4 linked regions of the Homo sapiens genome follow. The protein of the gene in region 4 interacts with the protein of the main gene of each other region in a biochemical or structural test. Each region holds a gene or a part of one and is shown on either strand. Other genes may lie near its edges.

The links.
Region 1: the proteins of RANBP3 (region 4) and PPM1A form a complex in vitro, tested with the Homo sapiens proteins (one study listed by IntAct).
Region 2: the proteins of RANBP3 (region 4) and RCC1 form a complex in vitro, tested with the Homo sapiens proteins (2 studies listed by BioGRID).
Region 3: the proteins of RANBP3 (region 4) and XPO1 form a complex in vitro, tested with the Homo sapiens proteins (2 studies listed by BioGRID).

Annotation. Positions count from the first base shown.
Region 1 is NC_000014.9:60,244,249-60,252,226, reverse strand, and holds the start of PPM1A (protein phosphatase 1A), read right to left. Parts: upstream 3,007-7,978; 5' UTR 2,550-3,006; intron 2,066-2,549; exon of another isoform or gene 1,746-2,065; intron 1-1,745. UniProt on the Homo sapiens protein: Enzyme with a broad specificity. Negatively regulates TGF-beta signaling through dephosphorylating SMAD2 and SMAD3, resulting in their dissociation from SMAD4, nuclear export of the SMADs and termination of the TGF-beta-mediated signaling.
Region 2 is NC_000001.11:28,502,189-28,509,055, forward strand, and holds the start of RCC1 (regulator of chromosome condensation), read left to right. Parts: upstream 1-3,854; 5' UTR 3,855-3,896; intron 3,897-4,031; exon of another isoform or gene 4,032-4,139; intron 4,140-5,176; exon of another isoform or gene 5,177-5,383; intron 5,384-5,939; 5' UTR 5,940-5,972; intron 5,973-6,369; exon of another isoform or gene 6,370-6,574; intron 6,575-6,641; 5' UTR 6,642-6,717; exon of another isoform or gene 6,718-6,867. UniProt on the Homo sapiens protein: Guanine-nucleotide releasing factor that promotes the exchange of Ran-bound GDP by GTP, and thereby plays an important role in RAN-mediated functions in nuclear import and mitosis.
Region 3 is NC_000002.12:61,486,356-61,493,377, reverse strand, and holds part of XPO1 (exportin-1), read left to right. Parts: intron 1-324; coding exon 325-463; intron 464-629; coding exon 630-811; intron 812-896; coding exon 897-1,053; intron 1,054-1,179; coding exon 1,180-1,343; intron 1,344-2,601; coding exon 2,602-2,736; intron 2,737-4,606; coding exon 4,607-4,790; intron 4,791-5,106; coding exon 5,107-5,213; intron 5,214-7,022. UniProt on the Homo sapiens protein: Mediates the nuclear export of cellular proteins (cargos) bearing a leucine-rich nuclear export signal (NES) and of RNAs.
Region 4 is NC_000019.10:5,926,121-5,933,142, forward strand, and holds part of RANBP3 (ran-binding protein 3), read right to left. Parts: intron 6,425-7,022; coding exon 6,332-6,424; intron 5,412-6,331; coding exon 5,284-5,411; intron 1,968-5,283; coding exon 1,848-1,967; intron 1-1,847. UniProt on the Homo sapiens protein: Acts as a cofactor for XPO1/CRM1-mediated nuclear export, perhaps as export complex scaffolding protein. Bound to XPO1/CRM1, stabilizes the XPO1/CRM1-cargo interaction. In the absence of Ran-bound GTP prevents binding of XPO1/CRM1 to the nuclear pore complex.

The sequences.
Region 1 (7,978 bases), on a different chromosome or scaffold from region 4:
GTGGACATATGCCACTTCTTGGTTAAAAATTACAAATATGCACGCACAGTTAAACCAAAATCAGCTGTACATTCTATTAGCTATTAGAGTAAACAAATGGCCTAGATGTAATCTGAACAAACTAAAAGACTATAGGTATTTAGTGACTGCTCAGCAATATTTACCACATGACAAAATGATGTTGCTATAGATTTCTTTCAAAAACAAATGAGGTATTAGAGAATTTTCAAAGGTTTAACAAGACCCAGCTTGAAGTGACAGAAAAAACCTTCATAATGTGTTTTTATAATGTCCTTCACATCAGACTACCAAGGGTCCTGTGCTTGTTCAAACCTGTAGTCTCAACCACCCTTTGTCTCCCATGAAATCTCCATCCTCCTTCCTCTCAAGAGTTTCCCTACACATCCCAATCCCAAAAGAAAAATCAATAGCTTACAAGAACACAAGAACAGCTTTTCTAAAGAACCATCACCAACTTAGAATTTGTTAAATAAAACAGAACCGAGAAAGAAATCCAGCCTTAGAACACTGAAACATCTAAGTGCCTGACACATAACAGGCATTTATTTGGCAACGGTATGTTGACTAGACACACAATATTGATAAAAAAAAATTTTTAAATGTAGTAACTGGACAGTACATGTGATAATATAATCTGCCCAACTGGCTTTACTGATTTGGAAGCTGAAACTCAAAAGGTTAAAGGACTTGTCCATGGACACAGATATTTTGGAGCACAGCCATGACTAAACAATCCTTGTCTCCTACTGCACTGTTCCCTTCAACAGGTCATATACCTCAGCCCCTCATGTAAAAAGATACAATATGTACACAAAATACATAAAAAGATACAAGCCAAATAAAAAGCAATTTGATGACTATTATTTCTCAAATATAATTGAGGTAGTTAACTTCAAACATTATCAGTCTTAATACACCTTTCCCATAATATAATTACTTCACCGATCTAAAAATGTTTTATGATATCAAATTAAAATGTCTTAGGCAACTGCCATGTGCAGGAAGTTCATTATAGTTTCAATAATGTGGTACTGCTGTAAACTTCCAGGTTAAAAGTAATCATCCTTACATGACTGAAAGTTTAATCAGATACATATAAGTTACACATAACAAGAACAAAACTATAACACTAGGAAATGTTACTTTGTGCTTCAAATTATTTATTGGTAAAGAAAGCATTAAGTCAGTAAAAGCAGCATCTAAGAATAGAGAATCTCCTTATTTTCAATTTTCTCATTTGTAAAATAAGGAGTTACAGAAATACAATCTTTGGAAAAGGCCCAATATGTAGCAAGATAAAAGTATAAAAGTAAAGTGTTTCAAAGAGAGTTGGGGACCAAGCTATGCTAAATTCCCAAGTGCTCTGGAACCCTAAGTCTCAGCAGAGTAGTGTTTCAACAAATCCCTCCACTTTTCGGAGCGCAACACATGTAAAGTGGTTGTGTTTAAAACCCCAACGTGCAAGTTTGAAAAGACTGTTTTACAAAACAATTGTTAAAATGTCTAATTTCTCTCAATAATGTCAAAATCATTTCCTTTGAGAAAATGATACCTATCTCTCATACTCTTCCAACCACTTCTTAAAACACATTCAGCTCATTATTCCAATGAGCAGGAAACTTGCGGGGAGGTGGGGCTAGCACACAGATCCCATGGCTTGGACAACTGAAGCATGACTTTTGTGGATTTGTACCATGTGGTGTTTCAGGAGAGAAGAAAAATACCTCAGGTGATGAAATTTTCAAAACGTATCTAAAACTGCAGTTGGTAGAAGGCTCTCCACAGCCAGCTGTCTTTCAAGAAAAGGCTCCAAGTTTATTTAAAATCTACAAGCAGAACAGAACCATACCTCAACCAAGCTCTAACATCAAGAAGTTTTACCCGATTTACGTAGTTAAAAGGATAAGAAATCGGAATTTACTTCAATGGATTTGTTCGATGCCTTAATAATGAATGAACTAGAGGCATCACTCACTGACTTGAGTTCTGAAGGAGTCTCTCAGCCCTGCCCCCTGTAAAACCTTAAGCAATTTCTACAGAATTAGGTTTTTCGAGGCTAAGCCCGGTTCAAAGGAAGTCTCCCCGCCTCCCTCCCAGGGGCTGAAGCCCAGGACAGCCGGGGCGGCGCGCCCGAGCGGGTGGGGGCGCGGGGACGCCCCCTCCCCGCTCGGGAAAAGTTCTGCAGGCCGCTCTCCGGCCAGGCCGGCCTGCGGCCGTCGCCTGCTTCGCCGCCACAAACACCCATCTCGGCCGCGGACGGCCAGAGGGTCGCGCCCCCTCCCCGCGCCACCGCAACTAACACCCCGCCCCCGCCTCCCCGCCACCGCCCTCGCCGAGCGTTAACCCCTCGCCGTCCGCCGCCCGGCTCGGGGGAGGAGGCCGGCCAGGGGGTGGAGTTGTCGCGTCTCCTCCCGGGAGCGCCCGGGCAGACGCCCGGCTTGTTTACAGGCCCCAGGCCTGCCCGCCGCCGCCGCCGCGCAGGCCCGCACCGCCCGCCAGCCCGCCGTCGGCCCGAGCGCCGCACTTACCCGGAGCAGCCGCAGGCGGGCAGGTCCCTGGTCGGCCGAGGCGGCGGCGGCGGCAGCCGGGGAGGGGGTCACCGCGGCGGCGACGGCGGCAGCCGGGGGAGGGGTCACCGCTGCAGCGGCGGGCCAGGTCAGGCTGGGGAAGGGGCGGAGGAGGGGAGGAGCCGGGCTGCGTCCGGGCCCCCGGCTGTCGGCGCCCTCGCGGCTCAGATCATCCGGGCGTTGGAGAGGGAGGCAGAGAGCGGGTCCCGGAGAAGGAGGAGGAAGAGCCGAGGACTCATCGCTTTCGCGCCTCAGCTGTCTAGAGTCCCCCCACCCCCCCCTCCCCAACCACCCGTTCCGGAGCAACAGCCGCCTGAGGACCCGAAGCTGCGGGCCGGACGAGCGCCGAGACCACTGCTCTCTAGCTCCCGCGCGCGCTCCCGTCCCTAGCGCCGCCACCGCCGCCGCCGCCGCCTCTAGCGCGGCCCCGCGCAGGCGCGCTCACGACCGCGTCGCCCCTCCCCCACCCCTCCGCTCGCCCCGCCCCGCTGGCTCCGCCGCCGCTACAGCTGCGGCGCGGCGCGCAGCTACAGAGACCCGGATGTCGTTGGGCAGGAACTGCGGTGAGGGCTGGCGGGCGGGGGAGGGGCCGCCACAGATGACGTCACTGCCTTACCCAGCTTCTTTCTCTGCCGCTGCTGCTGCCGCCGCCTTTGCCTTACGGCCTGGAGCACCAGGCCGAAGCCGAAGGGAGCGTCCGGATCCCGGATAGCAGCCAGGACCCGGGCCTTCACGTTCCGGCGCCAGGGACTGGACAGAATGTGCGGCTATTAGGTGCCCAGTAGATCGACAGCCCCTCCGTGCCGGCCCTTGGCCAAGTAGGGACTCGGAAGCTACCCCTACGGCGTCCGCGCCCGGAGCCCTGGCTCTTCTACCTGCCTGCAGATACAAACCCCACTCCCTGCGAAGATGGTGTACACGCAGCCCCGAGCACAGACCCGAAGCTGTCCACCCTTCTTGGGCGCCGTCGCGGTCTGGCCGCTGCCCTTCGAACCCATGGTGGGTCCCAGGCAGCTGCCAGACCCCCCTACCCCAGAGTCCCACTCCTCCAGAGCCTTCCTCTCCCAGTGACCCCAGGAAGCCCAAGCAGGTGCCACGGCCACACACCTCGCGACCCAAAGGGCAGAGACACAAGCACGCTACCACCGCCCACCAATGTGCGAGTGCAACTGATTCACGCACGGGGCACATGCTCTGAGTTTCTGGCAGGTTTTCCCTCTATAGTTCAGGGGATTCCACATTGTATTTATTTGCACATGTTAGATAATCACGTGGTTCTGTCCCAGGGGACCTCCAACGACCTCCAATGAGGTAGGTTAAGGGAACAGGATTTTTCAAAATCAGGAGAATAATCAGAAACATAACAGCTGCTTCTATTAAGAGGTAGAGATGAGCTAAAGTTAATAGAAACTGCACGTGCCAGCGGCCAAAATCCAGTTTAGCTAGCTGGAAAACCCGACCCACGCTGCTTGCAGACGCCGGGGATAGAATGACAAACCCTAGGCAGCCAATGAATCGCAGCCTAGGAGCAGTACATCACCAGCACGGGTTCCCATTGGCTGGGGTGCCCTTCCCTCTCTTGTCAGCGGCTTAACCAGTTCACGAATTTGACCTACACCACATTCGCAGGAAAAGAAGTTAGAAGAAAAGTCCGTATTTTTAAAAGATGTTCTGATGCACACACAAACCAAAGACTTCATTGTAGAAGGCAGGTTCTTTTACTGGCCAAATTGAGTTCTGGCCAGTAAAAAAGGTAAATTTATGTTGAAGGCCTCTCTATTTTACTTGAGGAGCTCACTATAGCAATTTGCACCCTACTACTTTCTATCTCCTAAACCATTTTGTTGCCCCAACTCTTAGATCAAAAGCAACCTATTTATTCTTTCTGGCATTCAGCAAATATTTAGCTGCTGCTTTTAAAGTTGTAAAAAGCCATCTCTAATTTTCTCAACATGACTTTGGGGAAGGTTCTGTTTCCTTCACTTTTTTTTTTTTTTTTTTTTTTTTTTTTGAGACAGAGTCTCGCTCTTTCATCCAGGCTAGTACAGTGGCACAATCTCGGCTCACTGCAAGCTCCGCCTCCCGGGTTCATGCCATTCTCCTGCCTCAGCCTCCCGAGTAGCTGGGACTACAGGCGCCTGCCACCACGCCTGGCTAATTTTTTTGTATTTTTAGTTCAGACAGGGTTTCACCGTGTTGGCCAGGATGGTCTCGGTTTCCTGACCTCGTGATCCACCCTCCTCGGCCTCCCAAAGTGCTGGGATTACAGTCGTGAGCCACTGTTCCCGGCCAGAATTCCTTAGAAGATGATCGTGGATCATTTCCACATATACAAAATAAAAATAAAATTCACTATGCATTTGGTCTCAGTATCATCTGAGGATACATTTCCTAATTCTCCACATATCTCCCCGACCCCCCAAAAAAAGAAATTAGATCAGAGATCTTTGAAACGCTACCTTCTTGGAATCCTTAATACTCCAGGCAAGTAACAGCATGAGTAGCATGCTGGTGGACTCATTAACATTCTGAACTACAAAAGCTCATATGGCAACCATTTAGAGTGCTCTTAAAAGACAAATTTTCTTATTTATAAGCAGAAGCTGGGTCACTAGTGACGGTAGTGGACCATAGAAAACTTGAAATGCCTGCCTATCTTTCTGCTTCCTTCCTTTAGGCTTCCACACCTTTCTTCTCTCTGTTCTGCACTTGGAGAATCTGGGTCAATTGTAGAAGAAGAGGGAGAGAAATAGAAAATATGAACAGAAAGAAATTTTTAAGGAGTCTACGCATTGTACAGACTGCCGATAAAGCAGCACCTTCCTACTATTTATTTCTGAATACAGCTTGCAGGGACATTTTGGTATGAACTAGGAAACTCATGGGTTATAAGATTAATATTTTAAAAAGATATCAATATTGTCTGATTAAATATGTTTAATATCATCATATCCCCTTTTATTAAACCTTATGCTAAGAAGGGGGGACAGATAGAAGGGGAAAATAACATTGAAAAAAGAGGATTGAAAGTTCTCTTCTGAACTGTAAGACTTTGCCGGGCCTCTACACATATTTGGGATGTTCACAGTAAGATTTTAGTGGGAATATATTGCCATGATGATGACATTTTAGTAATTTTTATAGGTATATTATAAAACTATCCTGCTCTGCTTTGGAAATCTGTTTATATTTCAATTAACAAAGAAAAAGATTATCTACAAGATTGGCTTTAAAGTCCTGAATTTAGTGTGTGTTGATAGCCTAGTAATTGGGAGGCTTGGGGTGAGGACAGGGGCTGTAGTGTGGAGTCTAAAGCTTAATCTGATCAGCAATACTCTCTTTCCCTTTCCACCACAATTGTGACTTAAAAAAAGGTTTACATTCCTGCTCCCAAATTACTCTCCAGGAGAGTCACCCTTGAGGCAGACTTGCCTGGGCCTCTCAAAATATATGCAGTAATGTAAATGACCCCCTCAGGAGGCTAGTATTTGAGAATACCCCTCACCATCCTTTTCCACTGAAGCCAGTCACTACTCAAGAGTTAGAAAGCCAACCAGAACATAGGTTCAACAATTCCTTCCTCCCTCACTACCTGTTTCATATTTTTTTCTCTCACACATCCTCTTCATTTGGTTTCCTCTTTTCTCATTTCTCCTTCTCTCTCCTCCCTTTTTCTTCTCTTCTCTTTTTGCCTTCTTTGCCCTTCTCTTCCCCATTCTTCTTTTCTCTCTTTTCATTAGCTTAGTACAAATTGTAGCTTCTGCTACCCATTTTCTCCCAGAACAGAACATGCGAGCAGACAGTGCCCCTAAATGAATTTCATTCAGGGAGAGGGTGTGCCCCCTACCCTGGCCCTCCTTCCTCCCTCCCCTACATCATAATACATTATGAGAAACTTAGCTGCTTAGAGGACTGTTACAGAATCAAAAGGATTAGAGAATCCTGTCCTGTGTGACATCACTGGGCAGCCCCATTAGGGAGGGGCAGAGGGGAGCAGCCAGCAGTCTTATGCTACCACTGTGGCTCATCCTGCGACCTGAGAGAAACCTGGGCAACTGTGAGCACCAGAGGCCAAGTCCTGGACAGTCTTTAGGGTAGGCTTTCACCTCAAGATAGCCATATATGGCCACAGCCTTACAATACTAGAGTGGATCTTGTCAGATAAGTTCATCTGTTCATGAGATAGCTATTGTGCACCAAGCACTGTGTGGGACACTGGAGGTAGATAATGACATCAATGGGCAAGCCCTGCCCACAAAGAGCCAACATAATAATAAGAGGCATAGACAAATAAGTCAGCAGATAGAAAGGAAATTGCATACTGTTATCCATGCTGTGAAGAAAATAAATAAGGAAACAGATCCGGGAGACGACTTGAAACAGGTGTTCAGTGCAGACCTCTCTAAGAAGGCAGCATTTGATCTAAAGGATGAGAAGGAGTCAGCTTCATAATCAGGGGAGAACTTTCCAGGTAGAGGGGTCAGCATGGGCAAAGGGCCTGATGTGGAAAAGAGCTTGGCAGAAAAGAGTTTCTTACAGCCCAAAGACAAGTTCAGCAAACTCAAGGCAAATAGTTTATGGTCATTTAAGTTTCGAGAGTGTTTCAACGTGGACATTAGGGATATTTAATTTATAATCAGGAAACTACATTATGTGCACGGGTATAATCCATAGAAAATAACTTGGTGAGTTGGTCTGGTGCAAAAAGCAAAGCAACTTTTTTAAAAATTGAAATTAAAAATAGTCTGGGTGCAGTGGCTCACACCTGTAATCCCAGCACTTTGGAAGGCCAAAGCGAGTGGATCACTTGAGGCCAGGAGTTCAAGACCAGCCTGGCCAACATGGGGAAACCCCGTCTCTACTGAAAATACAAAATTAGCCACACCTGGTGGCACACGCCTGTAATCCCAGCTACTTGGGAAGCTGAGGCAGGAGAATCGCAGGCAGGAGAATCACTGGAACTCAGGAGGTGGAGGTTGCAGTGGGCCGAGATCATGCCCCTGCACCCTAGCCTGCATGACAGAAAAAAAAACACCTTTATTCAACTATTGAAATTGAGAAGTATTCCATAACTCCAGGAAAGACCCGTCAGACAATCCAGCAGCAGCTAGAAAAGAGTGAATTATAAGCTTCAAATAAATAGTTTTCATCCCAATATAGGTACCTATTTGTGCTAAGTAAAGACTAGCACAGATTTGAGTGGGCTTCTTCAGAACAATTCTTCTGGGTGTTTACTGTCTATCCTGGGCATTACAGAAGATCTCAAACTAAACCATACTTTTGAAAGCAGCGACACACTGCATCCTTAACAATGGTGGCCTGGTTGAAAACAGTAATGAAATTGTCATCATCATAAAGCCTTTTATCTGAACCTGACTCTGCAGTTTACA
Region 2 (6,867 bases), on a different chromosome or scaffold from region 4:
TGCTTCATAACCTCTGGTCTGTGCACATTGTTTTCCCTACCTAAGGCCATATTCACTCAGCTCATTAAAATCTAAACGAAATCCAAACCAATATGGCTTTCCTGTGGTCACCAGGGATTTCTCAGCCTTCGGTTATTGCACTTGGCTGCTTTGCAACATTTGGTGCTTTGGACAATGTTCTAGTCCTCAAAACTCTTCTTCCTTGGCTTCTGAGGCACCGCTGTCTTCTGGTTCTCCTTCCCTGACTGACCTTTCTCTGTGCTGCTGGCTTCTTCCTCGAACACCATTTAAATGCTGGGTTTTCGGCCAGGTGCGATGGTTCACGCCTGTAATCCCAGTACTTTGGGAGGCCGAGGCAGGTGGTTCACCTGAGGTCAGGAGTTCGAGACCAACCTGGCCAACATGGTGAAACCCCATCTCTACTAAAACTACAAAAAAATTAGCTGGGTGTGGTGGCATGTGCCTGTAGTCCCAGGTACTTGGGAGGCTGAGGCACGAGAATTGCTTGAACCCGGGAGGCAGAGGTTGCAGTGAGCCAAGATCACAACACTGCACTCCAGCCTGGGTGACAAGAGTGAGACTCCATCCAAAAATAAATGAATAAAATAAAATAAATGAATGCTGTGTTTTACCGGGTGTGGTGGCTCATGCCTGTGATCCCAGCACTTTCGGAGGCCAAGATTGGCAGATCGCTTCAGGCCAGGAGTTCAAGACCAGCCCGGGCAGTATAGTGAGAGGCCATCTCTACCAAAAATTTAAAAAATTAGCTGAGCATGGTGGTGCATGCCTCTAGTTCCCGTTACTCAGAAGAGGCTGAGGTGAGAGAATCGTTTCAGCCCTGGTGGTCCAGGCTGCAGTAGTCCTGATCACACCACTGCATTCCAACCTCAACAACAGAGCGAGATCTTGTCTCAAAATAAAATAAATGCTGGGGTTTCATGTCTTCCCATCACTCTCCTCATTCTTCCAAGACGACTTTAGCCACCATGCTAATTCTTACAACTTCTAAATATTTTATCACCAACTCAGATTTCTTACAGGAAGCCCAACCCCATATATCTAATTGCTCTTTGGACTTATATACAACCAGATGTTACTCAGGTAACTCGTATATACTCCAATGTGGACATTACTCCTCCCCCACTGCCTGCATTTCCACTTATCAAGGTTAGAGACCATAGTATGTTCAGCCTCCTAAGCCTGAAACTCTGGTATCCTCAAGTTCTTCTCTTACCTTGCAATTCCAGTGGGACGACAAACCCTACATCAGAAATGTCTTTTTTTTTTTTTTTTTTTTTTTTTTTTGAGATAGGTTCTTGCTCTGTTGCCCAGGCTGGAGTGCAGTGGCATGATCACGACTCACTGCAGCCTCCATCTCCTGGGCTCAGGTGATCCTCACACCTCATAAGTAGCTAGGATTACAGGAATGTGCCACTACACTCAGCTAACATTTTTTTTAAAATTTTGTAGGCCGGGGTCGGGCGCAGTGGCTCAAGCCTGTAATCCCAGCACTTTGGGAGGCCGAGGCAGGTGGATCATGAGGTCAGGGGTTCAAGACCAGCCTGACCAACATGCTGAAAACCCGTCTCTACTAAAAATACAAAAATTAGCTGGGCATGGTGGCGGGCGCCTGTAATCCCAGCTACTCAGGAGGCTGAGGCAGGAGAATTGCTTGAACCTGAGAGGCGGAGGTTGCAGTGAGCCGAGATCGCACCACTACACTCCAGCCTGGGGGACAGAGTGAGACTTCATCTAAAAAAAAAAAAAAATTTGTAGGCCGGGCACGGTGGCTCATGCCTGTAATCCCAGCACTTTGGGAGGTCAAGGCGGGCAGATCACGTGGTCAGGAGTTCAAGACCACCCTGGCCAATATGGTGAAACCCCGTCTCTACTGAAAATACAAAAATTGGTGGGGCATGGTGACACTTGCTTGCAGTCCCAGCTACTCGGGAGGCTGAGGCAGGAGAATTGCTTGAACCCAGGAGGCAGAGAATGCAGTGAGCCAAGATCGAGCCACTGCACTCCAGCCTGGGCAACAGAGCAAGACTCCATCTCAAAAAAAAAAAAAAAAAGAATTGCTGCGATAGTAAATAATGTACGTAATAAAGCATTCAGAACAAAATCTAATATGTAGGAGGAACACCATAAACGTTACTACTCAAGATAGCCCAGCTGTGATAGCTCTGTCTCTCTAGCCAACGTTTTTCCACCTTACACCACACTAAAAATTCCATCATATTTGCAACATTTCTTATGTATATATATCGTAAGCATTCTTTACTTGCCTACTTCATATTCAGAGGGTTTTGTGTGTGGTAAAATATACATAAAACTTGCCATTTTTAACTAGTTTAAAATGTATAGGGGGCCAGGTGTGGTGGCTCAGGCCTGTAATCCCAGTACTTTGGGAGGCCAAGGCGGGCATCACTTGAGGTGAGGAGTTCGAGAGCAGCCTGGCCAACATGGTGAAACCCGGTCTCTACTAAAAATACAAAAATTAGCCGGGCATGGTGGCATGCCTATAGTCCCAGCTACTCGGGAGGCTGAGGCAGGAGAACTGGTTGAACCTGGGAGGTGGAGGTTGCAGTGAGCCGAGATCACACCACTTCCTTCCAGCCTGGGCGACAGAGCGAGACTCCGTCTCAAAAAAAAAAAAAAAAAAAAAGTCCAGGTGCGCTGGCTCATGCCTGTAATCTCAGCACTTTGGAGGCCGAGGCGGGTGGATTGCTTGAGGTCAGGAGTTCGAGACCAGCCTGGCCAAGATGGTGAAACCCCGTCTTGCTAAAAATACAAAAATTAGCCAGGCACGGTGGCGGGCGCCTGTAATCCCAGCTACTGGGGAGGCCGAGGCAGGAGAATCGCTTGAACCCGGGAGGCCGGGGTTGCAGTGAGCCGAGACCGCGCCATTCCACTCTAGCCTGGGTGACAGAGCAAAACTCCATCTCGAAAAAAAAAGAAAGAGTATAGGGCAGTGCTTTTAATTACATTCATTCACACTGTTGTGCAATGGAGTTTTTTATTTTTTATTTTTATTTATTTTTATCCGGGCCAGGCCTGGAGTTTTTAAACTTTTATCTGATTCGTCTAGGGGCACTTTCATCTTATTTACCTTCACATTTATCAAATTATTTCTTTCACAGGTGACAGAGCAGATTCAATTCCTTTTGATACTCCGTATTTCTCTATATGTATTTTTTTCATTCTGCATTCTTATTATTCCAACGTTTTACTTATTTATTTGGAGAGAGAGTTTCGCTCTGTCGACCAGGATGGAGTGCATCGGCGCGATCTCGGCTCACTGCAACCACCGCCTCCCAGGTTCAAACGATTCTCATGCTTCAGCCTCCCGAGTAGCTGGGACTGGAGGTGCGCGGCACCATGCCTGGCTTATGTTCTGTATTTTTTGTAGAGACGGGGTTTCGCCATGATGCCCAGGCCGGTCTCGAACTCCTGGCCTCAAGCGATCCGCCCCTCACGGCCTTCAGAGCTGCTGTAATCACAGGCGTGAGCCACCGCGTTCGACTCTTCCAAAAACTTTTTGGCCAGTTTATCTAAGGGCATATCCTACAGACTGAGTCCAGTGATTGCACAGAAGTAAACGTCCTCTGCAGCTACATACCTACAAACCTATTTCTGTAACGTACATTCCCCAGCAAGGTCCCGCGGGAAGGATCCACTACCGCGAGAGGCCTCCCAGCCAGGAAGGGGTGGGGCTCAATCTGCAGTAGATTCCCAGAAGCCTCAGTGAGTTTCTGATTCTCTAACTGCGCATGCTTCTGCGCACGCGCAATAGACATTCCAGGACTTCCGGGCACTTCGTAAGGTTTAAAAAGGATGCTTCGCGTTTTCTCTCTCCTTTTTGGAGACAGATTCGCAGTGGTCGCTTCTTCTCCTTGGTAAGTGTGATCCTTGGTAAGTGTGATCAGATGCTTGCCACCGGAGTTGTGGGTCTAATGCTATAGATCAGTAGCCGAGCTTCCCTAGGAAGATCATATAGTATTTTATTTATTTACTTTTTTTTTTTTTTTGAGACGGAGTCGGTTTGTCACTCAGGCTGGACTGCAGTGCTCGTTGCAACCTCCGCCTGCCGGGTTCAAGCGATTCTCGTGCCTCAGCCTCTCCAGCAGCTGGGATTACAGGCACGTGCCACCACGCCCGGCCAATTTTTGTATTCTTAGTGGAGACGGGGTTTCGCTATGTTGGTCAGGCTGGTTTTGAACTCCTGATTTCCGGTGATCCACCACCCTCGGCCTTCCAAAGTGCTGGGATTACAGGCGTGAGCCACCGCGCCTGGCCGGAAATCATGTAATTTAAAACTATATATGGGTGTCTTAGGCGGCATCGGTCCCAACTCTAAAGTACGCGTTAGACGGGCCTGGGCCAGAAGTGGGCCATGGAGACCTCGGGACCCGCAGGGCTGCCGCCCGACCCAGCGAGCCTCTGAAGGTGCACCGCCACCCCCACTGTTTATCTTACTGCCTCATAGTAGGCACATTGTCGTTCTCAATATAATTGCACACAGTTTTATTCTGGATCCTCATTTGCCTTTAAGAATTTTCTCAATTTTTCTTTTTATTTGATCGCACCACTGCAACCTCCGCCTGCTGGGCTCAAGCAATTCTCCTGCCGCAGCCTCCCGAGTAGCTGGGACTACAGGCGTGTACCACCGCGCCTGGCTTATTTTTGTATTTTTAGTAGAGACGGGATTTCACCATGTTGGCCAGGCTGGTCTCCAACGCCTGACCTTGTGGTCCGCCACGCCAGGCCGAAGATTTTCATAATTTGGAAGCATTGCGTTTCGTAATTATGCTTTCTCGTATTTTTGTGATTTGGGTCATTTTTATTTTTATATTTTTAGGATTACAGGCGTGAGCCATCGTGCCTGGCCGATTTGGGGGTAATTAACAAGTCCACGTGTTTCATTTGAATTTAGGATAGCTGGGCCTAATTGTTGTCTTTGCTTCTGCGGTACCTTCCACATAGTACTAACCGCCTATTGTAAAGTAATTAGAATAGCTGAATATGCATGTTACCAGTCTAGAAACCGATTTTTTTTTAACACCCCACTGTGGACAGGGTGGAAACTCGTTTGCTTTCTTGTTTAAGATCTGTAGTAACATGAATGGATGAAATTGTTTCCTATTGGATTCTGTAAATTTATGCGTTACACTGATTGTCCAACGTGGATACACCCGGGAGGTCACTCTCCCCGGGCTCTGTCCAAGTGGCGTAGGGGAGCATAGGGCTCTGCCCCATGATGTACAAGTCCCTTTCCACAACGTTGGAAATAAAGCTGGGCCTCGTGTCTGCGCCTGCATATTCCTACAGCTTCCCAGAGTCCTGTCGACAATTACTGGGGAGACAAACCATGCAGGAAACAGCCTTCTAGAGCACTGAATCTGGATTGAAGTCTTTTTTTTTTTTTTTTTTTTTGGAGATGGAGTCGCTCTGTTGCCCAGGCTGGAGTGCAGTGGCGCACTCCATTGCCTCTGCCTCCCGGGTTCAAGTGATTATGCTAAGTGATTCTCCTGCCTTGGCCTCCTGAGTAGCTGGGATTACAGGCCCCCGCCACCACGCCAGGCTAATTTTTGTATTTTTAGTAAAGACAGGGTTTCACCATGTTGGTCAGGCTGGTCTCAAACTCCTGACCTTGTGATCCGCCAGCCTCTGGCCTCCCAAAATGTTGGGATTACAGGCGTGAGCCACCACACCTGGCTGGATTGAAGTCTTAATACATGTTTAAGAAAAATTGGCTAAAAAGTAGCCAGGCATGATGATAGGTAGCTGGAGGAAGGAGAATCGCTGGAGCCCAGGAGTGACCTATACTCAAACCTATACTCCAGTGCCACTGTACTCCAACCCCAGGCGATAGCATGAGGCCCCTCGTTGAAAAAGTTTAGGGTTTTGCTGTACTAATAGATTAATATCTTGTTTTGCAGGATTTGTTAAGGATTCCAAGTAACTCTTATTTGGTGAGTAAATCTGCTAATTGTTTTTTGCTTATCAGCTCTTTGTCAATGATTTCTGTAATGGAAATAGGATTGAAGAGACTTTTATTCTAGTTGGTCAGGATTTACCTCTGAGGCATTTAATCATTCTCAGAGCAATAGCCAAATATCGACTTTGCTGCATTTTTGTAGGCATGTTGACATAACTTCAACATATGCTCTGTTCTGTAAAAATTGCTTTTTTTAGTCAGCTCATTAAAAGTGCAAAGTAGTAAAAGCTGCCCTAGTGAACTGTAGGAAGCCTAATTGGCTTTATCTACATGTGTAGCCTGAGCTGAGAAAGATACTAGCCCTTGAAAATACTGTGGGTGATTAGCAATATTGGATTTGTCGGTTACTCCAATTCCTCACTAATGAGCATTCCAACGTGGATACCCTGGGAGGTCACTCTCCCCAGGCTCTGTCCAAGTGGCATAGGGGAGCTTAGGGCTCTGCCCCATGATGTACAGTCCCTTTCCACAACGTTGAAGATGAAGCTGGGCCTCGTGTCTGCGCCTGCATATTCCTACAGCTTCCCAGAGTCCTGTGGACAATGACTGGGGAGACAAACCATGCAGGAAACATATCTAGTATACTAGATTTTAAGTTGAAGTAGGATCTTCAGGAGTCTAATCATTATTTCTTTTCTTTTAGGAGAGAAGACGATCTGCACTTCGCATTTTGGCATTGACATTTAATTTTAGGGTCCTTTATATAGAAGGGAGAGTAGGTAAACTGATTTTTTTTTTTAACAGGGAGGGTTTGACAATCTTTGGCAGACTTGGAGCAAAAGATTGAGGTGCATTTCATGCCTCCTTTTGAGAGTCTTGCTCTGTCGCCCAGGCTGTAGTGCAGTGGCGCAATCTTGGCTGCAACCTCA
Region 3 (7,022 bases), on a different chromosome or scaffold from region 4:
ACCACCATGCCTAGCAAATTTTAAATTTTTTAGTTTTACTTCATTTATATTTACATAGTTTTTTCTGTTGTGCTTTAAGCCCCAGTATTTTTATTGTTTTAGAGATTGGGTGTCATTTTGTGTTGCTCAAGCTGCTCTCAAATTCCTGGCCACAACAGTTCTTTTTGCCTCGGCCCTCCGGAATAGTTGGAATTATAGGCATGAATCCCTACACATGGCTGGCTTGTGGTTTTTTTGGTTTTGTTTGTTTTTAACTAAGCTTCTACACTAATGATTTCAGTGATCTAACGATTTTTTTCTTGATTGATATATTGTTGAGTATAGGTCCGTTTATTAATGGTTAGTCGAATGGCTAAACCAGAGGAAGTATTGGTTGTAGAGAATGATCAAGGAGAAGTTGTGAGAGAATTCATGAAGGATACAGATTCCATAAATTTGTATAAGAATATGAGGGAAACATTGGGTAAGTTAATAAATACTGTTAATCTTTACCTTTATAAATCTATTCTGGGGTGGAAATACATTTTAGGAAATGTACTTGTAGTTTCTAAATATTTTCTAAATGTATTGTTACTCATCAATAAAATTCTGCTCATTATTTGCATTTGAAACCATGTTTTTCTTTGTAGTTTATCTTACTCATCTGGATTATGTAGATACAGAAAGAATAATGACAGAGAAGCTTCACAATCAAGTGAATGGTACAGAGTGGTCATGGAAAAATTTGAATACATTGTGTTGGGCAATAGGCTCCATTAGTGGAGCAATGCATGAAGAGGACGAAAAACGATTTCTTGTTACTGTTATAAAGGTATGCAAGGGATAGGTATGAATTAGAATTGCTAAATAAGTATTATGTTGTTACAATAAATAATACAAATTTGTCTTATTTACAGGATCTATTAGGATTATGTGAACAGAAAAGAGGCAAAGATAATAAAGCTATTATTGCATCAAATATCATGTACATAGTAGGTCAATACCCACGTTTTTTGAGAGCTCACTGGAAATTTCTGAAGACTGTAGTTAACAAGCTGTTCGAATTCATGCATGGTAAATCTCTTTCTTTACTATATTTTGCTTTTATTTTTATTGAAGAAAATAAATGAATGTTTTTGTCTTGTTAGAGACCCATGATGGAGTCCAGGACAAAATAAATGAATATTTTTGTCTTGTTAGAGACCCATGATGGAGTCCAGGATATGGCTTGTGATACTTTCATTAAAATAGCCCAAAAATGCCGCAGGCATTTCGTTCAGGTTCAGGTTGGAGAAGTGATGCCATTTATTGATGAAATTTTGAACAACATTAACACTATTATTTGTGATCTTCAGCCTCAACAGGTATGTTAAGCACTGAGCATATGTTATTTTTAGAAAGTAACACTTGTATCAATCTGTATGTATCAATGGAAATAGGAGGGCAACTATTGGATCCAATAGAAGTGTTTCTGATTAAATTTTCTTTCTTTTTTCCTTGAGACAGGGTCTTACTCTGTTGCCCAGGCTTGAGTGCAGTGGCACAATTACGGCTCACTGCAGCCTTGAACTCCCAGGCTCAGGTGATCCTCCCACCTTGGCCTCGTGGGTAGCTGGGACTACAGGCATGCACTGCCATCACACTCAGCTAACCTTTTTCCCCCCCTTGGTAGAGATGGGGTTTTGCCAAGTGGCCCAGGCTGGTCTTGAACTCCTAGCTTCAAGCGATACGCTTGCCTCAGCCTCCCAAAATGATTTTATATGTGTGAGCCACCACGCCCAGCCTGGTTAAATTTTCATAGTGAGACAGATTCTTGACCAGAAGATTGTTAGGCTGTTGTCCTATGTAAAATTATTCCGAACAAACAAAATCAGGTGTTTTTTGTTTTGTTTTGTTTTGGGGTGTGTGTGTGTGTGTGTGTGTGTGTGTGTGTGTGTGTTTGTTTTTTGAGATGGAGTTTCACTCTGTCGTCCATGCTGGAGTGCAGTGGCGCAATCTCGGCTCACTGCAGCCTTGCCTCCTGGGGTCAAACGATTCTCTTCCTCAGTGGCTATGATTAACAGGTGCTTGCCACCACGCCCAGCTAATTTTTTTATTTTTAGTAGAGACGGGGTTTCTCCATGTTGGTCAGGCTCATCTCCAACTCCTGACCTCATGATCCGCCCGCCTCGGCCTCCCAAAGTGCTGGGATTACAGGCGTGAGCCACCACCATGCCTGGCCAGTTTGGGTTGTTTGTTTGTTTGTTTTTTGAGGTGGAGTCTTCCTCTGTCACCCAGGCTCGAGTGCAGTATTGCAATCTCGGCTCACTGCAACCTCTGCCTCCCAGGTTCAAGCAATTCAAACCTCCCAAGTAACTGGAATTATAGGCACCTGCCACCACGCTTGGCTAATTTCTTTGTATTTGTAGAAGAGATGGGGTTTCACCACGTTGGTCAGGCTGGTCTGCAACTCCTGACCACAAGTGATTGGCCTGCCTTGGCTTCTCAAAGTATTGGGATTACAGGAGTGATCCACTGCACCTGGGCCAAAATCAGTTTCAAGACGTTTGTGAATTGCTTGTGTGTGGTTTTCCTTATTAGGGTGTATAACATAAACGTTAAAATGTCTGCTTTTTAAAATAGGTTCATACGTTTTATGAAGCTGTGGGGTACATGATTGGTGCACAAACAGATCAAACAGTACAAGAACACTTGATAGAAAAGTACATGTTACTCCCTAATCAAGTGTGGGATAGTATAATCCAGCAGGCAACCAAAGTAAGTATTTCTACCTTTTCTTAAAAGTTTTCATGGGATTTAACAAGACGTGTTCTTTACAAATGTATTGAATTCAAGCCTTTTAACATGTATGTGTGATCCATAAGTGCTTTTATGTGTGTCTTTCTATAATTTATTATCTGGGCGAGGTGTGGTGGCTCACGCCTGTAATCCTGGCACATTGGAAGGCCGAGGCGGGCGGATCACCTGAGGCCAGAAGTTCGAGATCAGCCTGGCCAACATGGCAAAACCCCGTCTCTACTAAAAATACAAAAATTAGCTGGGCGTGGTTGCACATGCCTGTAATCCCAGCTACTGAGGAGGCTTAGGCAGGAGAATCACTTGAACCCAAGAGGCAGAGGTTGCAGTGAGCCGAGATTGAGCTACTGTTCTCTAGCCGAGACGACAGAGCAAGACTCTGTCTCAAAAAAAAAAAAATAAATGAAAAATCTGGGCCGGGCTCGGTGGCTCACGCCTGTAATCCCAGCACTTTGGGAGACCGAGACGGGTGGATCACTAGGTCAGGAGATTGAGACCATCCTGGCCAACGTGGTGAAACCCCGTCTCTACTAAAAATACAAAAATTAGCCAGGCATGGTGGTGGGCGCCTGTAATCCCAGCTACTCGGGAGGCTGAGCCAGGAGAATGGCTTGAACCCAGGAGGCGGAGCTTGCAGTGAGTCAAGAGCATGCCACTGCACTCCAGCCTGGTGACAGAGGAAGACTCTGTCTCAAAAAAAAAAAAAAATACTGTAATTTCCATTCTCATTTGATATTAAAATAGGAATAGGCTGGGTGTGGTGGCTCATGCCTGTAATCCCAGCACTTTGGGAGGCCGAGGCAGGCGGATCACCAGGTCAGGGGATCGAGACCATCATGGCTAACGCAGTGAAACCCTGTCTCTACTAAAAATACAAAAATTAGCTGAGTGTGGCGGCGGGCGCCTGTAAGTCCCAGCTACTCAGGAGGCTGAGGCAGGAGAATGGCGTGAACCTGGGAGGCAGAGCTTGCAGTGAGCCGAGATCACGCCGCTGCACTCTAGCCTGGGCAACAGAACGAGACTCCGTCCCAAAAAAAAAAAAATAGAACTATATTACTTCATTCTTAAGTAGATGTAGACAAAAAGGCGTTTGTGTTCGTTTTTACCATTTGGGATTATAAATATGGTTTAGGGTAAGGGAAGCGTAATGGCTTTTGCTTTGGTAATTATGTGGATTTTTTTTTTTTTTGAGATGGAGTTTCACTCTTGGTGCCCGGGCTGGAGTGCAATGGCGTGATCTCGGCTCACTGCAACCTCTGCCTCCCGAGCTCAAGCAGTTCTCCTGCCTCAGCCTCCCAAGTGGCTGGGATTACAAGCAAGCACCATTGTGCCTGGCTAATTTTGTATTTTTAGTAGAGACAGGGTTTCTCCATGTTGGTCAGGCTGGTCTTGAACTCCCGACCTCAGGTGATGCACCCGACTCAGCCTCCCAAAGTGCTGGGATTATAGGTGTGAGCCACCTCGCCTGGCCATTATGATGGATAATTCTTTTTTTTTTTTTGAGACGGAGTCTTGCTCTTTCGCCCAGGCTGGAGTGCAGTGGTGCGATCTCGGCTCACTGCAAACTCCATCTCTAGCGTTCACGCCGTTCTCCTGCCTCAACCTCCCGAGTAGGTGGGACTACAGGCGGCTGCCACCACGCCTGGCTATTTTTTTTGTATTTTTAGTAGAGACGGGGTTTCACCGTGTTATCCAGGATGGTCCCGATCTCCTGAACTCATCATCCGCCCGCCTCGGCCTCTCAGAGTGCTGGGATTACAGGCGTGAGCCACTGTTCCCAGCCGTGGATAATTCTTATATGATAAATGGAATTTGCTTTTTTTCCTCCAAGAATGTGGATATACTGAAAGATCCTGAAACAGTCAAGCAGCTTGGTAGCATTTTGAAAACAAATGTGAGAGCCTGCAAAGCTGTTGGACACCCCTTTGTAATTCAGCTTGGAAGAATTTATTTAGATATGCTTAATGTATACAAGTGCCTCAGTGAAAATATTTCTGCAGCTATCCAAGCTAATGGTAGGTGATTCTGATTTCTTACACAATGCAGTATAAACAAACCACTTCTCTTCTACTGCCTTAAGTCAAACATTTGATGTTTTTTACAGATTTAAATCAGACCTCCCATTTCCCAAATGACCCTAGACATATTTAAAACAGTTAAGTGTACCTTTCCCTTTTAAAATTAGTCTTAAAGCTTATTTTCCCAATAAATTTTGTGAACTTTTGGCTTTAAACTTTTTAATGGTAAAATGGAATTGCATCTAATGTACACCTGAGTACCACTGTATAAGTTTAGTGGTAAAATTAGATTCCATTTGATTCTGTTTTGTAGGTGAAATGGTTACAAAGCAACCATTGATTAGAAGTATGCGAACTGTAAAAAGGGAAACTTTAAAGTTAATATCTGGTTGGGTGAGCCGATCCAATGATCCACAGATGGTAAGTGAGAGATGCTTTGCTTTTGATTTCTAGTGTTGATGCTGTGTTTTATGGAATATGCTATACTCTATTATGTGCATTTTGCTAATTTAAAGCATATCAACTTTGTGGTTATTTTATGGCATTTTATTTATTGTAGTCCTTACGTTAATATACTAATAGCTGTATTCCATCTTCAAAAGAAACTGCTGTTAATCAGTAGCGAAGGGTGGTGATATGTAACAAGATAGCTAAGAAAATTGGGTCATTTTATGTTTCCATAGATAGGTTAGGAGGATTTAATTAATGGAGTACCGGTGCAGTTTTTGCATTCCTCTTGATTTTTAGAACAATTGCTAGAGCTACAAAGTTGTCATTACTTTACCTCTTTAGCAAAGTGATTGCTTCCCAGATTAAAGGCCTGAAAGTCTTTTTTACACCCTTTTTCCTAAATGATTTGCAGAAAAGGAAATCATTTTCAGTAATAAAAACCAGCTGCGTATGCCTCAACTTGTAAAATTGTGAATTAGTTTTAGGTTTTAACTGTATCGTTTCATTCTTGTTATTCAATTGAGCCTTGGGAGAGTCCAAAAAATTCTAATACTACTATTACTTGGAATAGTGTTGGTTTTTTGTTTTTTGGTTTTTTTTTTTACAAGTGTGCTAGTTATTTTCATAGTTTTGAAATTTCAGTATTGTTTCTTGTTAAGGAAATACTTTTCAGTAAACTTGTTCTGAATATAATTCTTGTGGAATACTTAAGTTGGCTAACCTAAATATCGAAAGGTTCTGAACATGCGTATTATGTGAACAGAACTGTATTTAAAATTTGAAAGCAGAAAGTAAGATGTATTGAAGGAATTGTGATGTTTGTAATTTACAAGAAGCTTGAGCACGTGTCGGGAGCACAGTGGGAATAATACAAAGGGTATCATCTTTTGTAACATTAATGTTAAAGTTTGGGATATTTGTTCACATGAAACATTGTGTTTATTTTCCTTGTCTTGGCTTTTCACGGTGGCTCATGCCTGTAATCCCAGCACTTTGGGAGGCCGAGGCGGGTGGATCACTTGAAGTCAGGAGGCTGAGGCAGGAGAATCACTTGAACCCCAGAGGTGGAGGTGACAGTGAGCCAAGATTGCGCCATTGCACCCCAGTCTGGGCCACAAGTGGGAAACTTCGTCTCAAAAAAAAAAAAAGAACAAGAAGTTACTCTTTAAGTATAACTCAGTTTACTTAGAATCATGAAAATCTTACTGGGCATTGTAGCATGCACCTGTAATCCCAACCACCAGGGAGGGTAAGGCAGGCGAATCACCCCAGCTCAAGTCCAGTTTAGGCAACATGGCAAGATTCAGTTTCAAAAAAATAATAGAAATCCATAGTCTTTCTTATTTTCTGAGAGTAATTGATTGATGTTATTTCTGCTTGTGAAAATACTCACCAGTTAGCATTCATTAGATTAAAACATTAGTCTGAGTTGGGTGGATCACGAGGTCAGGAAATCAAGACCATCCTGGCTAACACGGTGAAACACCCCGTCTCTACTAAAAATATAAAAAATTAGCTGGGCGTGGTGGCAGGTGCCTGTACTCCCAGCTACTCGATAGGCTGAGGCAGGAGAATGGCGTGAACCTGGAGGCGGAGCTTGCAGTGAGCCAAGATGGCACCACTGCACTCCAGCCTGGGCGACAGAGCAAGACTCCGTCTCAAAAATAAAAAGACAGTATTGAGGGCTCGCTTGCTGCCATCTTACATATACAGTATACGTAGAATCCTGATTCTGCCACCTAAGTTGGAGACACCCACTGAATTTTGAGCCTCACTTTT
Region 4 (7,022 bases):
GGCCTCTTTCCTACCAGCTGCTATGCTGAGTCTGTCAAATGCACGATCTGCTTTAATCCTCACGAGGCCTGGGAGGGGGATGTTAGGGACCCTGTTTGACCAACAAGGAAGCAGAGGCTCAGAGGGTTAAGAAACCATGGCTCTGGCTGGGCGCGGTGGCTCGTGCCTGTAATACCAGCACTTTGGGAGGCTGAGGCGGCGGGGAATCACTTGAGGTCAGGAATTCGAGACCAGCCTGGCCAACATGGAGAAATCCCCACCTCTACTAAAAATACAAAAAATTAGCTGGATGTGGCAGTGGGCGCCTGTAATCCCAGATATTTGGGAGGCTGAGGCAGGAGAATCGCTTGAACCCAGGAGGTGGAGGTTGCAGTGAGCAGAGATCATGCCACTGCACTCCAGCCTGGGCGACACAGCAAGACTTCGTGTCCAAAGAAAAAAAAAGAATCCATGGCTCAAGTTTGCCCTGGAAGGAGAGGCTGGGATTTGACTGAGACTGCGAAGTGCACGTAAGCCTCTGACTTCTGCAAGAAGCCAACCCCACCAAATTCAAAGCAGCTGTCTCCCCAGACTCAAGGCAGAGATTCCACAGGGCCTGAACTCCACAGGCCAAGCCCTTCCCCGCCTCTTGCCCTCCCTCCTTGGAGGGAACAGCCCCTGAGGGACTCATTATTTTGCCTAAAGCCATGGCAACAGCAACATCAACTTTCCACGTTTCTCGACTTGGGCTTCTGTTGGACGGTGAGTAACAGAAAGGAAAGCAGAAAACACAAGCCGGTGCTTTCTGCATGCTAGAGAGGTTTTTGTTTATTTCAGGGCCCTCCCCGTCGACACTACTGACATGTTGACACTGGGCCCAGAACATTCCCTGTGGTGTGGCTATCCTGGGCACTGCAAGGGGCGGAGTGGCATCCCTGACCTCCAGAAGTACCTCCCAGTTGTGACAACCACAAAAGTCTCTAGACACAGCCACCGATACCGCCTCTCGAGCTTTGAAAGAAGCTTCTTGCCAGTGGAGCTGCTAGAGATGCCGTAGCACATTCCATGTCTGTGGCTGGGAAAGGTGGTGCTGGCTGACCCTGGTCTTCCTAGAGTCCCAGTGCATGGTCCAGGGCCACTGTTTCCAACCACTGCCATCCCTTCCCCACCACACAATCTCCAAACTAGGACCACATGTCTGGAGGGCAGCCAAGAGGTGGCAGACGCTTTGCTCCCTTTCAGGAGAGAAGACAGTGTTGTCACCCCACCCTGCCCCACTTAAAAAAAAATAAGGTGACAGTTCTTAATGGGGGCGATTCTACTCCACAGGGAATACTGGCCACGTCTGGGGACATTTGTGGTTGTCAGATGTCAGGAGCATTGGGTGGGTGGAGGCCAGTGATGCTGCTCAGCACCCTGCAGTGCCCAGGGCGACTCCTCAGAAACTAAGAATGGTCCAGCCGTAATGCTGCTAGTGCTGAAACAGAGAAACCCTGAAATACGGGAACAGAAACCTCTGGGCAGAGCTGAGAACACTGGACCGTGCTGTCTTTCTTCTCTGCTATGAAAGCCTGAGGCCTCAGGTTCAGTCACCTTCCCTGTCCCCGCTACCATGAGAACCAGGGACCCTGACTTGAGAAGTCACTGCAGGTGAGGGCTCCGAAGCCTGGGCTGCTGGTGGGGAAGTGCCAGGGCCCAGCACACGCACACCAGCAGCAGACTGTGCCGTGAGCCATGGGGCTGCCTCGCTAACACCTTCTTTGTCCCACGCTCCCCTCCCCTGTTAAAAGGAAAATCTACCTACTTGCCTGCTGTTGAACCTGGGGAAGGCATAAAAAGTCAATGTGCTGGTTCAACAGCTCACATACCTTAACTCTGTCCCTCAAGTTCTGCCCAAATACAAAGGCTTGCTGTGTGGCGGGGTCTTTTTTCTCACAGGCTTCCTCTTCAGAGGCATTGCTGGACTCATTTTTCTGGGGCTCTTTCTCCTATCAAAAACCAAAACAAAACAGAGTAATCAAAACCAGTGCCACACTTGGCCCAGACGGATGCCCAGCAATCCCACACCAGATCATGTACTCCACACGTCTCCTCTGCATGTGCCTGCACTCCCAGCTACTCAGAAGGCTGAGACAGGAGGACTGCTTGAGCCTGGGAGTTGTAGTGAGCTGAGATCACACCACTGCACTCCAGCCTGGGTGACAGAGCAAAAACCTGTCTCCAAACAACAAGAAACACCTGTGCCCTGCAGAAGCCTTAGTGCCGGCAGAGGACAGGAAATAACCTGGTTGCTCATCATTGGCCAAGGAATGAAATAATTTACAATAGAAAATATGGGGGAAAAAAAGTACAGCACAGCTATTACCACCGAGAGGGAGGTAGGCCTCTGACATGCCCACAATACATGGATCAGAGAAGAGAGCAGCTTGTGGGACACGGAAGTGCGATTCCATTTCTGTTAAAGCCAATCCAGTCCCGTGTGTGTGGTGTGTGTGTGTGTGTATGTGTGGTGTGTATGTGTGTTGAGGAATGCCCAGGAAAATAAGTCGGGAGAGAGAATTCAAACTACTGACGGAGGTTACCCGGGAACCTCTTAGCTGGAGGGTGGCTCCTGCTTGTTACTTTCTAGGATTTCCATTTTGTGTAAATATTTTCAACATGTAGGCATGACTTTTTTGTAACTAAATATCCTAAGACCAAATGCATTTATCTTGAGATAATGGAATATGGAGTTGCTAGTAATTTGTATATGTCTTTCCTATACCACATGATGAAAAAGGTGTTGTAGAATTTGAAAAGAAATTTTAAAAGGCTTTTGGCAGATCTTTGGAGTCTCTGGCGATGTGTACAGTGGACATGAACGTGAGGCAGGGAGTGTTTTCCTGGGAGATGTCGTGAAGGGACCTGACAACCGTGAACTCGGAGGTGAGAAAGGCTGCAGGCAGCTTCTGACTGGCTCAGCGTGTCCAGCGGGCAGGGAAGCCTGGAGTTACAATGCCAGGCCCAGAATCAGCGGATCACAGCGCTGAGGGCACTTTCTGGTCCAACTGTGAAGGAAGTGAAAAGTGTAAATGTTTCTCTACTGTGCTCCCTAGAAATTCTGCTACTGCTGACTTCACGCTGCATCCTTGTGCCTGTGCAAGAGTGAACGTGGCTTTTTAAAATTAAACACACAACGTGTTTGGCGACCTGGAAGTCCTCAGAGGATGGGCTAATCCCCAGCCCCACTGGGGCCGCCTGCATCCCGTCCAGCAGAAACACTCCCTGGCTCTTGGCTTTCTGCGCTGTGTGCCCCCTGCTCACACCGACTGGTGCTAATCCCGGGTGGGTGGAGCCCACAGAGTCACCTGAGATGGGGCAGGCAAACAGCAAAATGTTTCTGACTACAGGGTATGTCTATGACCTGGCGGAGCCTGCTTAGAGGATTCGCTTAAACTGATAAACGAATCCCGAGGCCTGTAACCAGTCTGAGACTCTGTGTGTGTGTGGGGCGGGAGGGGAAGCCTCTTCCCCACTTTCCCAAAGACGGTACCAGGAGTTCCCCCATGGGTCGCCCCCAACATCTAAGCCCTCCTTAGAGGAGATGCCTCATAGCTCACGTTCCCGATGAGCAGTGTGTGCCATGTTCATGGGCGGCTTGGAAAAGCTCGGACTCCTGCTGTAGGGCCAGAGAAGGATACACACAGCGAGCCTGGCGAATCTCAACAGTACTGGGTGTGGTCAGAGGGCAGCGTGGGTGTGGCCGCATGGCTCCACCCCAGACCCACATGGAGCAGTGGCTTTGGAGCCAGACGCAGGAGCTGGGAATGGCAGCCAGCACATCACAACTTCTGAGCTCAACCATTTGGGAACAAGCTGTGTGCACTGCTGAGAAGGGGCTGGAACCGGCAGGAAGACGGACTCCGTCCCCTGGGATGGGACACAGCAAGGCCTCTCCAGTGAGGAACAAGCTCTCGGTAGCGGGTGCTACCAGGTCAGCCTGTGCACTCACCATCGGGGACAATCAGAGACACTGGGAGATGGCGGGACGGGCTGGGTCACTTCTAAGTCCTTCTCCAACTCAGAACTGCACACCTGATCTGCTCAGGAGACCTCAGCAGTCAAAGCTTCCAAGCCGCAGAATGCGGTGGAAATGATCCCTATTTCCAATTCAGCAAACTCGTTTGAAAAAGGGCGTGAGGATGTTTTCAAATTTAATTGTGGACAGCCATTTTCACCCTTTGAGCCAGAACATCTACTGGGGATGGAGGGTATAAAACTGCAGGCCATGGACACAGAGCGGAAAATAAACACAAAGATCCAATCTGGCTTTTACACAGAAGATACCACATGGTGTTACCCTAATTCTGACTTCAAACCCATCTCTGCCAACTTCAAAGGAGGCTCTTCATCAAAGGCCCTTATTTCACAGTGGCTGTGAAACACAAAGCTTTTGGCCCATATAATCCAAACCATACCCCCGCTTAAATGGAACTATTTCTTTTTTTAAGGCAGGGTCTGGCTCTGTCGTCCAGGCTGGAATGCAGTGGTGTGACCTCGGCTCACAGCAGCCTCCCCTTCCCGGGCTCAAGCAATCCTCCAGCCTCAGCATCCTGAGTAGCTGGGACTACAGGTACATGCTACCATGCCTGGCTAATCTGTGTATTTTTTGTAGAGACAGAGTCTTGCTATGTTGCCCAGGGTGGTTTTGAACTCCTGGCCTCAAGCAATCCACCTGCCGCGGCCTCCCAAAGTGCTGAGATTGCAGGTGTGAGCTACCGTGTCCGGCCTAAACAAACTATTTCTGAGATGACTCCCAAAGAAAAATTTTCAACTGGAACCACACAGATAGGAGTCTCTGAGGGGTGGTTTGGGTGTGGACACAGAGAGGGGAGACATTCCTCATGTTAAACATTGCAAGACACCCATCAGTGACAGCCGTTCCTCGGGCCCTAGTGACTCCTCAGAGTGCAGTGGTTCAGGTCCTCCCTCAAGGATCACTCCCGTGAGACATGTGGCGGTCAGCCTTGGGTAACAGGCCCTTCCGGCAGAACTCTGGGCAACAGGTCCTTCCGGCAGAGCTTGCTTGGGAGACACTCTTCTTCTGCCTGACCAGCAAGACCACCCTTGGGAATCTAGATCTGGTTTGTCAGGTACTGTTATTTAGAGCCTACTGAGCAAATCCAGAGAGCCTTACAATAGGCCCACGTGGAAACTGCTTGGAACAGGTGACAGCGTGTGGACTCCACAGCATGCTGGGAAGGCTGCCCTCCCGCTCCCAAGGGGCCTAGCATGCAGCGCTTCCCTGCCTCAGGACCCACTGACCTCAAGTGCACACACCTCATCGGCAGCTTCGGAAGGACTTCTCCATGCAGCAGTGTCAGGGGATGCTGCGGGCACTGCCCCCGTGCAGTCTGCTGGGAGGCTGACCCCGTTGGTGCCACTGCTGGGGACTGTGGGAGGGAAGGAGAGTGGGGAATCACAGGTGCTTGGCGGCCCTCCCACCCCCACTCACATAGCTGAGGGGCTGGGCCACGTCTAGTCTAGGGCCCCTCCCATGGTAAAGCCCACAGCACATGTCTCCTTTTTAAGGAAGGACCTGGTATCTCTACAAAGAGCCAAAATTCTTGGATTTAAAAAAAAACAAGAGAAACAAACAAAAAAGAGAAACCTGCCGGGCACAGTGGCTCATGTCTGTGGTCCCAGTGCTTTGGGAGGCTGAAGCGGGGAGAATGCTTGGGGCCAGGAGTTTGAGACCAGCCTGGGCAACACAGCAAGTCCTCGTTTCTAAAATAAGATAAAACAAACTGGCTGGGTGTGGTGGTGCACACTTGTGGTCCCAGCTACTTGGGAGGCTGAGGTGGGAGGATCGCTTGAGCCCAGGAGTTCGAGGCTGCAGTGAGCTATGATTGCACCAGTGCACTCCAGTCTGGGTGACAGAGCAAGACCCCATCTCCAAAATAAATAAATAAATAAATAAATAAAATGACCTTTCAAGTTTTTAAAGATAACCTGTGAAAATTGAGGCTGAAATTCTATCTGCAAACACACAGGGATAAATCTCATTCCCAGGAGCCGGCCTGCTTTTATGAAGACAGTGAATGAACAAAGCAGGTTTCACCCACACAGTCACACTCAGCCGAGAGCTGTGAGGAAGCTGTGGAGCCGCCTCTCCCTTCTCCGTTGCCAGGGCTCAGGAGGCTTGGGGCTGGAGACGGCTGGGGGGTGATTTAAAGGATCATCTTCCCTGATCTCTCTGTATTTCTGGTGCATTCAGCAGTCACCTCTGTCGCAACACTGCTGTCCCGGGTGCGACTTCGGGAACGCTCTACCCTGCCGTCTGGGCCTGGGCGCCAGGGCTGCTGTTTCTTACCAGTCTGGGACAGCGCCTTTGGCTGCGGAGCTTGTAACACTGCCGGGCGAAGCACGCTCCGCTGCTGCTCCTTGGGCTTCTGGCTTGGCAGACCTAGGAACAGAAGGCGGCCTTCCCAGTGCCCGTGGACCCCTGCCTGCCCCCAGGCGCTTCAGAGACTGACCCCTGGCATCCCATTTCATGCCCCTTGCAGGCTAGACTTTGCAGGGAAGCACTTTTTTAAAAACTTGAGGTCTTTTTTTAACAGCTGGCCAGGAGATCTGGCTACTGTTATTTTTACATGTGATTACATGAAACTCCCAGTGACCGACGCCTGTGAATTAATCCAGTTAGCACAGTAACGTGGCGGGGCGCCGGCAGACTCAACAGTCAAGTGGAGACTGTGGGAGGAGAGCAGTGCATTCACAGGCAGCTACCTGGAGGCTCAGGACTCGGTGTGGGGTCACGTACAGGCACATTTTGCACCTGTTTTTCAAAACAGCCATGCTGAGGAAGTCCCTCTGCCAAAGGCAGATGGGACAAGGACCCTTGCATGTGCCCTGCCCTGTGCAGCATCCCCGGCAGCCTCACTAGCAGCCGGCTCACTAGCAGCGCGCCGCTGGAATGCAGCCACCCTGCTAACTGGGGCGAACACTGTGGTATGTGGGGGCCAGAACATGAAGGACAGACAGGCTGAACCAAGTGCGCTACT